2 separate regions of the Homo sapiens genome follow, and region 1 is linked to region 2. Evidence: fine-mapped expression QTL. A gene starts in region 2. The other region holds a variant in brackets. All regions are shown on one strand. Distances are between the middles of the regions. Region 1 has its middle 37 kb from the start of ETNPPL. Region 2 holds the start of COL25A1-DT (COL25A1 divergent transcript).

The links. PIP is the estimated chance that this variant, and not a neighbour inherited with it, causes the effect.
Region 1: its variant is the best candidate, but not a certain one, in a credible set for the expression of COL25A1-DT in prefrontal cortex (CommonMind, PIP 0.66).

The regions. Positions count from the first base shown.
Region 1 is chr4:108,723,713-108,728,109 of GRCh38, forward strand. No RefSeq gene overlaps it. Among named protein-coding and RNA genes, the nearest start is that of ETNPPL, 37 kb to the right of the region's middle. The variant G/A (reference allele first, on the strand shown) is at 2,550.
Region 2 is chr4:109,300,471-109,304,867 of GRCh38, forward strand. COL25A1-DT (COL25A1 divergent transcript) reads left to right here and starts at 2,565. Exons shown (of 3, transcript NR_160939.1): 1 at 2,565-2,857. COL25A1 (collagen type XXV alpha 1 chain) reads right to left here and starts at 2,188. Exons shown (of 38, transcript NM_198721.4): 1 at 1,699-2,188; 2 at 1,253-1,605; 3 at 113-182. The coding sequence starts at 1,549. RefSeq lists an enhancer at 2,260-3,042.

The sequences.
Region 1 (4,397 bases), 580 kb before region 2:
AGGATGTGTTTTGGAAAGGAAGGTTATGAGAAAATCATGAAAATGTAGTTTTGTTAAATAAAAAGTAATTTTGTCTAGTTTAAAGGTTGTTTACAAGGTGTTTTAAATTCGAGGAATAAAGTAAGAATAATAGATAAAACTGAATGAATATAGAAAGTTGGGGAAAGAAATAGAATGGGAAAAATTGTGAGAGGTTATAAAAGATTTATGAAAATCTTATCTTTGTGGTTAAACATGATTGAGATTAGACAGATCTGCTTATAAGGTTTTATTAAAATTATGTTTAATATTAATAATACACTGATTGATAGAAGGGTAGAGTTTGGTTTTCTCTTTTAAACAAGATTTTCATTTGCTATTAATAAGAGATAGTAAAAGATTTTTGTTTGCCTTTTGAGTAAACTTCGTAAAAAGAAAGAGACGAAGAGACAGACTTTGTTAGTCTCATGCTGTCTGTATCAGGTGTTTTGATTGTTTGAAAAATAGTGTCTCCTCTCTATCAAAGAGTAAAATTTTTGCTTTTTGAAATCTTTAAATTATCATTTTGGCTAAATTAGTGACTATTATTTTATAGTGACCTATGATCCTCATGACCTATGATTAAGTGTCTTCAATCTTTCATATTTTGATAACAAAATAAACCTTAGGTATTCAACAAACTTCCCAAATCAAAGTTTCATGTTCTAAATTAAGCCTTTTTTTTTTTTTTACCTTGAACTGGTTTTGGACATTCAAAAAGGGCCCCTGGATATCTAAGACAGACATATTAGGCTTATTTGTTATGTTAAAATCACATAGGAAGCATTGTCAAATAAGAAATGATATTTAACTCTGAGTTACATTTGTATGGATGTGTTATTAATATGTGTTTCAAAATTATATGAGAATCTTAAAAATCTGATATGTCTTGGTATATGTGGTAAATTGCTTTATTCTGATCTTTTTCTAAAAGCTCTTTGGAAATATTAAAGCCTTGTGTCTTCAAGGAGGTTAAGGGAAAGGATAAAAAGACTCTGCTAGATAATCTGAAATACAGACCTTTGCTTATGACCTTGAGATCATACAATTGAACTGGGTAGGAATTTCAATAACACCATTGGGGAAAAACTGGACTCATAAAACTGCTAACTTAATATCAGACAGAATAACAATTAATTACATAGGACTGAACTGATGGAGGACTGAAATAATTTTTTTGTTTAAAACATTACTGATTCTTTTTGTTTTGTTTTCCAGAGTTAATAACACTTTTTTAAAAAGCTATTTATAGTTTTCAGCACTTGAGTAAAGTATACTTTCTTTTTTTTCACTCAAGACTTGTTCTGTCGCCCAGGCAGGAGTGCAGTAGCATGATCTCAGCTCACTGCAGCCTCCACCTCCTGGGTTCAATCAATTCTCCTGCCTCAGCCTCCCAAATAGCTGGGACTATGGGACTACAGGTGTGCGCCACCATGCCTGGATAGTTTTTTTTTTTTTGTATTTTTAGTAGAGATGGGGTTTCACCATGTTGTTCAGGCTGGTCTTGAATTCCTGACATCGTGATCCACCCACCTTGGCCTCCCAAAGTGCTGGGATTACAGGTGTGAGCCACTGCACCCAGCCATGCCTTCCTATAATCTTTTACCAAAACACATTCTACTTTCCTTACACACCTTGCATGTAAAACTGTTTTTCCAGTAGTCTCGAGTACATGTTACACTGCTAACCCTTACCAACTTTTACTTTTGGTAAGTAAGTAATTCTAATTATGTACTAGGTGTGGAGCCTAGGACACCAGACAGAAGTGCAGATAATGTTTGAGTCTTCTCAGCATAGCTAGGGGACATGGCTAACTCTGTGTGTCCTCTGGCCTTACCTAGCTTTAAAGAAGGCGAATTGTACAGTTAAGAGTCATAGTAGCAGTTTATGAAGCATTTAGTAGGCCTAATAACCTTTAAACTATACAACATTTATTTCATAAATTTTTCAGACTTACACAGACCATCTATGACATGCCTGGACTTTCTGACTTGTAGTAAACATCCCTCTTTTTTTAACAACTATTTTACTTTAGGACAATAATTTATCATACAAGGTCTTTTGTTTATATACAAAATCTCTTTTCTCTATAACATTCCTTACCAAAAATACCTCTTTACCTTTATAACCTTTAAGTTAGACAAAAGTCATTTTCCTTCTGTTAGAAAGTTAAGGTTTGTACTGCACGTTGCTGTGTGAGTCCTGTGAAGAGGGAGCAGATAAGGAGGTTATCTGCAACTGAAGAAGTTATTCCCCTTCAAGAAATTGTTTGGGGCCGGGCACGGTGGCTCATGCCTGTAATCCCAGCACTTTGGGAGCCTGAGGCGGGCGGATCACAAGGTCAGGAGATCAAGACCATCCTGGCTAACACAGTGAAACCCCGTCTCTACTAAAAATACAAAAAAAAATTAGCCGGGCGTGGTGGCGGGCGCCTGTAGTCCCAGCTGGAGGCTGAGGCAGGAGAATGGCGTGAACCCAGAAGGCAGAGCTTGCAGTGAGCCGAGATCGCGCCACTGCACTCCAACCTGGGC[G/A]ACAGAGCGAGACTCCGTCTCAAAAAAAAAAAAAAAAAAGAAATTGTTTGGTTAGATTTTTGCTAGAGCTTGTCTGAATAAGTGTGGGCCACTTCTAAACTCCTGAGGTAGGACTGTCCAGGTTGAAGTTATTGGTTAAAGATTTAGGTAACTTTCCTAGGAGAAATAGGGCTATAGGGAAACATGAATTTAGAGGTTGATTAAATATTAAGCAAGCAAGCACCTATCTTGAAAAGTATATTTTTGTCAAAAGCCATGTGAATATTTTCTTCTGGAGGGAGGAGGTGCCATTTGTCCCTACTACCTGACAGGATTTGGAAGAGAGTTGCTCAGATAATAAGATGAGCACAGAGTAGGCAGCTCTTGAAACCTAAAGGGAAATATATAATTTTACTTACTTTATTGTTATAAATAGTTCTAGTTTTGCTTTTACCTTAGCTAGTTTTTATGACAAGGTCAAACTTTTCCAAGGAATTTAATCCTCTTCACTTCATGTCTCTTGGAGCATCTTATACATCTCTTTCCTGTTATTTAAACATTTCATCTAATACTGTCTTCAAAGTGGATTTTTGTATGCACAAACCAGCTAAAGTTTGTGTATGCCTGAGAAAATGTTTATGATGCCTTCATATTTGAATGTTAGTTTGGCTTGGTATAAAATTGTAACTGCATTTCTTTCAAAATTTGAAAATATTATCTCATGTGTCTTGCTTATCATATTGCTGTTGAAAAAACTTGGTGTTACTCGAATTTTAATTTTGGTTGGTGATCTATTTTTCTGTACAGTGTATTTTAGAATTTTCTCTTCTTATTCTAGGAGTGGATTTTTATCTTGTTCCCTATGTTTAGTCCTCTATGAAGCCTTTCATTCTGAGGTCTTTTATTGTTTTCCCCCCTTTATTTTTGAAAATTTATCTCCTTTATTTTTTTAAACATTTTTATCATCATTATTATTATTTTCTGTATTTTTTTTTTCAGACAGAGTCTCGCTCTGTTGCCCAGACTGGAGTGCAGTGGTGTGATCTCAGCTCACTGCAACCTCTGCTTCCGGGGTTCAAACAATTGTCCTGCCTCAGCCTCCCAAGTAATGGGGATTACAGGCTTGTGACACCACACCTGGCTAATTTTTGTATTTTAGTAGAGATGAAGTTTCACCTTATTGGCCAGGCTGGTCTCAAACTCCTGACCTCAGGTGATTCACCCACCTCGGCCCCTCAAAGAGCTGGGATTACAGGTGTGAGCCACCATGCCTGGACTTAAATATTATTTTAATTTCTTTTTAGGACTTCCATTATCTGGCATACATCTTTGTCTTATCATTTATCCTTGTTTATATATTAGTTGTTCTCAAAGCATGGTCTTCAGATTAGCAGCACTGGTACCACTTGTGAGCTTATTAGAAATGAAAACTCATGTCCCTTCCCACACCTAATGAATTAGAATCTCTGGGACTGAGGGTCAAGAAACTGGTTATCAATCTCTCCAGGTGATTCTTATATATAAGTTAAGATTTAAGGCTGGGCGTGGTGGCTCATGCCTGTAATTCCAGCACTTTGGGAGGCCGAGGTGGGCAGATCACGAGGTCAGGAGATCGAGACCATCCTGACTAACACGGTGAAACCCTGTCTCTACTAAAAACACACAAAAAATTAGCTGGGCATGGTGGCAGGTGCCTGTACTCCCAGCTACCCGGGAGGCTGAGGCAGGAGAATGGCGTGAACTTGGGAGGCAGAGCTTGCAGTGAGCTGAGATCACGCCACTGAACTCCAGCCTGGGCGACAGAGCGAGGCTCCATCTCAAAAAGAAAAAAAAAGATTTAAGAACAGGACCCAGCCAGGCCCCGTGGCT
Region 2 (4,397 bases):
TGGGTCTGCATTCTTTCTTTACTATTATTACAGGTAGACTTGACAGACACAGGACCTTTGTTTTAAAATGCTCTGCTCTGGAGGAAACCTTGTTAAATAAGTTCCATTTTACCTGCTGGGCAGTTACATTCTGAAGGTGCTTCTCTTGCGATTCTTATTTTAGCCATATGTTCATAGGATTTCTGTAGGAAAAGAAGAGTTATTAATAATCATCAGTAGCACTGTAGAGGGATGGAGTCTTTAGGGACTCTGGCCATACGCCTGATTTACCGGCATTTCATAACCTGCATAACTAACATTTACATATGTACTTGGACTCTAGTCAAGAAAGTAACCATGCCTAAGTCCTAAAAAAAGAAAATGACCACTGATAGGGTATCAAGATTGCTGGACTTGTATAACATCTTTCTCCATTCTTCTCTACCACCACTCTCTCCCTCAGCTCAAGCATATGCAGTCAATGTAAAAACCTAGCACTAAAATGTTGCAGTATTAGGTAAGCTGTGGCTTACCAATAACAGCCAATATTTTATACATGAAGGTCAACTGCTTTATTTATCATGCTAGGCTGCAACTACTGCCAAATAGGCTCCCGGCTAGGGTAAGGTTCCAGAAAACCCCCTTACTCTAGTCTAAAGGTACCCTTACACATAACATAGATTCCTCTCAACTCTCAATTCCAAGGGCTCTGCATTCATAAATACCCCGGCACTGCATCCTTTACCAAAAATAAAGCTACTTTAAAAAAAAAAAGTTTAAACTTTTAATATGAAAAGATTCAACGTGTGAAATTATTGATTTTAAATTATATATGACATTATTTTACATTTAAGAGTGATTACCTTTTTTATATATTAATAACATCTATGACCCTAACCATCTTACAACATGTAAAAGATTTAACAGATGCTATCTCTGCAAGAAATATTCTCTCCACAATTGGGTTTGACTTAGGACAACTAAAAAGAGATAAAATGCCCTTTCCGAACCCTTTTAGACCTTCCTATGTGTTTAACACGCAAACATTAAGAGAGAGTGAGGGAAGATTAGAGATAGGGATGGGGACATCAAGGGATGTGCACATATAAATATATGCTACAGTGAGCATAGATCCTTGGCCAACACATGCACGCGCGCGCACACACACAGCCACACCAAGTATGGGTACAGTAAGGGTAGCGGCTAGTCATGCACACAGAGTCACGCTTGTACAAGATGTTACCCACGTGCAAAATACCCCAGCCTCTCACACCTGAGCCAGAAGTCGCTCCACTTTCTCTTGCACCATAGTCTTGAGGTGATCCAGGGTATCAGGCAGCAGATGAATGGAAGGGGCCCCTTTGGCGGATTCGAGAGCGGCGATCCTCGCCTGGAGGTCGTTGGTTTTCACACCCAGGTACAGGCAAGACACCACGGCCACCACTGACAGGAGGGCCGCCAGGACGGCACACGGGGGCATGGTCCGGGCACAATGCTGTTCGGCAGGGGTCGGGTCCTCGGATCTGGGCTCCCGGCCCCCTCCTTTCCCTGCGTGCTTCTTCAGCAGCATCGTGGCGGGGTCGGCCGTCTCGGCTTCGCTTCCCACCCTCTACACCTCAAATAATCCTAAAAGGAAAGAAAAAGGTCGATTCCTCCAAAGTTCAGTCCCTGTGGCTGCACAACTAGTTGGTGGAGTCAAGCCCACGAGCGGATACGGACCCCTGCCTTGCTCAGCGTCCAGACCCGCAGGCGTGCACCATCCCCGCTTTCTTCTCTCCTCCCAGCTGGAAGTGAAAAGCACCCTCCGTCCGGGGACTGGGTGGCGGTGGGGTAAAAAGCAAGACGAAACCCACCCAGACAGCTCTTCCGACTCCCAGAGGACCGACACCTCTTTCGAGGGCCCCAACAGTGGCCGCTCAGGGTCCGAGGGCAACGGCCGAGGCGCCACGCGGGGCCGCGGCTCGCCCTGGCCACGGAGGACCGGACCTGTTGCGCCTCTGTGAGTTTGCCTTATTTCTACCTACTCGGTGTCTTTCGGCACGCCGACCTGTTTCCCACCTGCATTCAGTTCAAGGCAAAAAGGCTGTGAGAGCACGCTACAGCGCAGCGCGAAAGGGGCGACTAAGGTGGAGAAGAGAGAGGAAAACGAAATAAACCCAAGGAACCAATGCTACTCGCGAAGCCGAAGTCGCGGCTGCCCGAAGGATCTCCGCAGCCCCGCGTGCGCGATCCTTAAATACCCTTCGCGATGCTCGCGTGAGTGTGTGTGTGAGTGTGTGAGTGCGCGCGCGCTCCGAGCACGACGTCCCTCCCCCGACCCCCTCCCGGCGCCCGGCGTCCGGCCTGCCGCTCCCGCTGCTGCGCGCCCCCCTTCCGAAGGCAAAGCAGGAGCCCGCCTTATTATCATAATGTATTCACCTTGGCCCAGCCCGCGGGCCGGCCCGGGGAACCCCCAAGGGAGGCGGGAAGCTTGGGTGGGAGCGGGGCAGGAGGTCTGTTATTAGCATAATGTATGCAAATAGCTGGAGCGGCCACCGTGATTGGAGAGGAGCCTGGCGACCCCTCCCCCTGCGCGGAGTAACTTCAGCATCTCCGAGGGCCACCTCTCTGGCCTGGGCCGGGGCCGAAGCGGGGTCGGCTGCGCAAGAGGCGGCAACTTTGGCTTATACTGACTCAGCCCAGCGCCCCCTTTTTATCCCACATAAAAATGGAGAAATGGCCTCCGGGAGGAAGATGTGAAGCGGCACGCTCTATCTCTACTGATCTTCACTCAAAAGCAGCCGCAGGAGCTGTTGCTATCTCGCTGTGGTGCAGCGCTTTTCCCTCCTCCCTCACTTTCCCACATGCCCAGAGGCAAAGTGTCTGGCCGACGTCTGAGGTACATTTCCCCACTTCCCTTCTCTTCCCACTGCAGCCCTCAGATTGTCCAACGAGGGGAAGTTTTCCTTCCCCTCCCCCAGTTTCCTTGTCTTGACGGCACTGAGTCTCCTCCCAGCTCTGTATTCCTAGTCTGTACTAGGGTGCTAATGTGTTTTCCTGATTCCCTGTTTTGCGGGATTGGAAAAGGGAGTGTTGAGGTATACACATTTCTCAGGATTTAGGAAAGGAATGAAGAATGAAGTCAGTTTTTCCTTTTACCTGACTCTTAATGCTGTTCTCTCTGGATCAAATTACAAGGTCTCTAATGGGATTTTGGAAAGTTGGTAACAAGTAGCATTTGACATCTAATTGACTTTGGGGAAAACAGAAATCCCACCTCTTATTCCAAAGAGTTCCTTCTTATCTCCCTATAAAAAAAAAAACCATATATTTTTCCTATTCTCCTTAATTAAGCTAACCTGAAGTCGTTGCTTACTATTGTAAACAGTCAACAAAATACTTCACTAAGTTGGTCTTTCACATGTGTAAACGGATATTGCTAGGTGTGAAGCAAGGTAAGGAAATAACAGCATTAGAGGAAGAAAGAGACTAACATTGGAGGAAAACTCAATGAATTTGGCTATAAAGTCAAAACCATAATTCATTTGTATTACACAGTGGTTCTCAAAGGATGGTCCTAGACCAATAACATCAGCATCACCTGAGAACTTGGACATTAAAATTCTAGGTTCCTACCACAGATCTGAATCAGAAACTGCTACTACCACTACTGAAATAATAATTTTAAAAAAAACAGCAATCTGTGTTTTAACAAGCCCTCCAAATGATTTTGATATATACTACTAAAGTTTGAGAACCACTGGTATAATACTTTCCAAAATATTTTCAAATACTTTTTGTATTTGAACCTCATAACCCTGCGATGTGAGGATTTACTGTTCCTCTTTTAAATATAAACAACGTTTTTAAATAAATTTTAAAACAGATAAATTTCAAGTCACATTTAATTGTGATTAAACATGTTTCCAATAACAGGACCCAAATAATGGGTACAAATATTTTAATGTACAAACTCTTTCTGTAACCTCTAGCTGTTCCTTAGTCTCATTTGCAGGCTTTTCCTCTTTCATTTCTCTGAAAGTTGGTGCTCCTTGGGTCTCTGTCTATTCCATCTTCTCTGTATACTCTCTCCAGTAGAGTTCCCATTACACTGATGAGTCATAAATTCATATCAAAAGCCCAAACCTCTCTCCTGAACCTCAGATCCATATAGCCAGTTGCCTCTTTGTCATCTCCGTTTGGATGTCTCACTCTCATTTCCAATGTAACCTGCAGCTTACCTCCAAATTCTGTCTGCTTCCTCTGTTTCCCATCTCAGCCAATGGAGTTGCCATCCATCCAGTCTCCCCAAGCCAAAATACCCAGTTGCCGGCCCTGACTTCTCCCTTGCCCTCCTCTCCTCATCTATTTAGAGTCCTTCAATAATTCTGGTTGTCCTTAGGACAAAGATCTTACATCTTTCAACCCCCACAACAAAG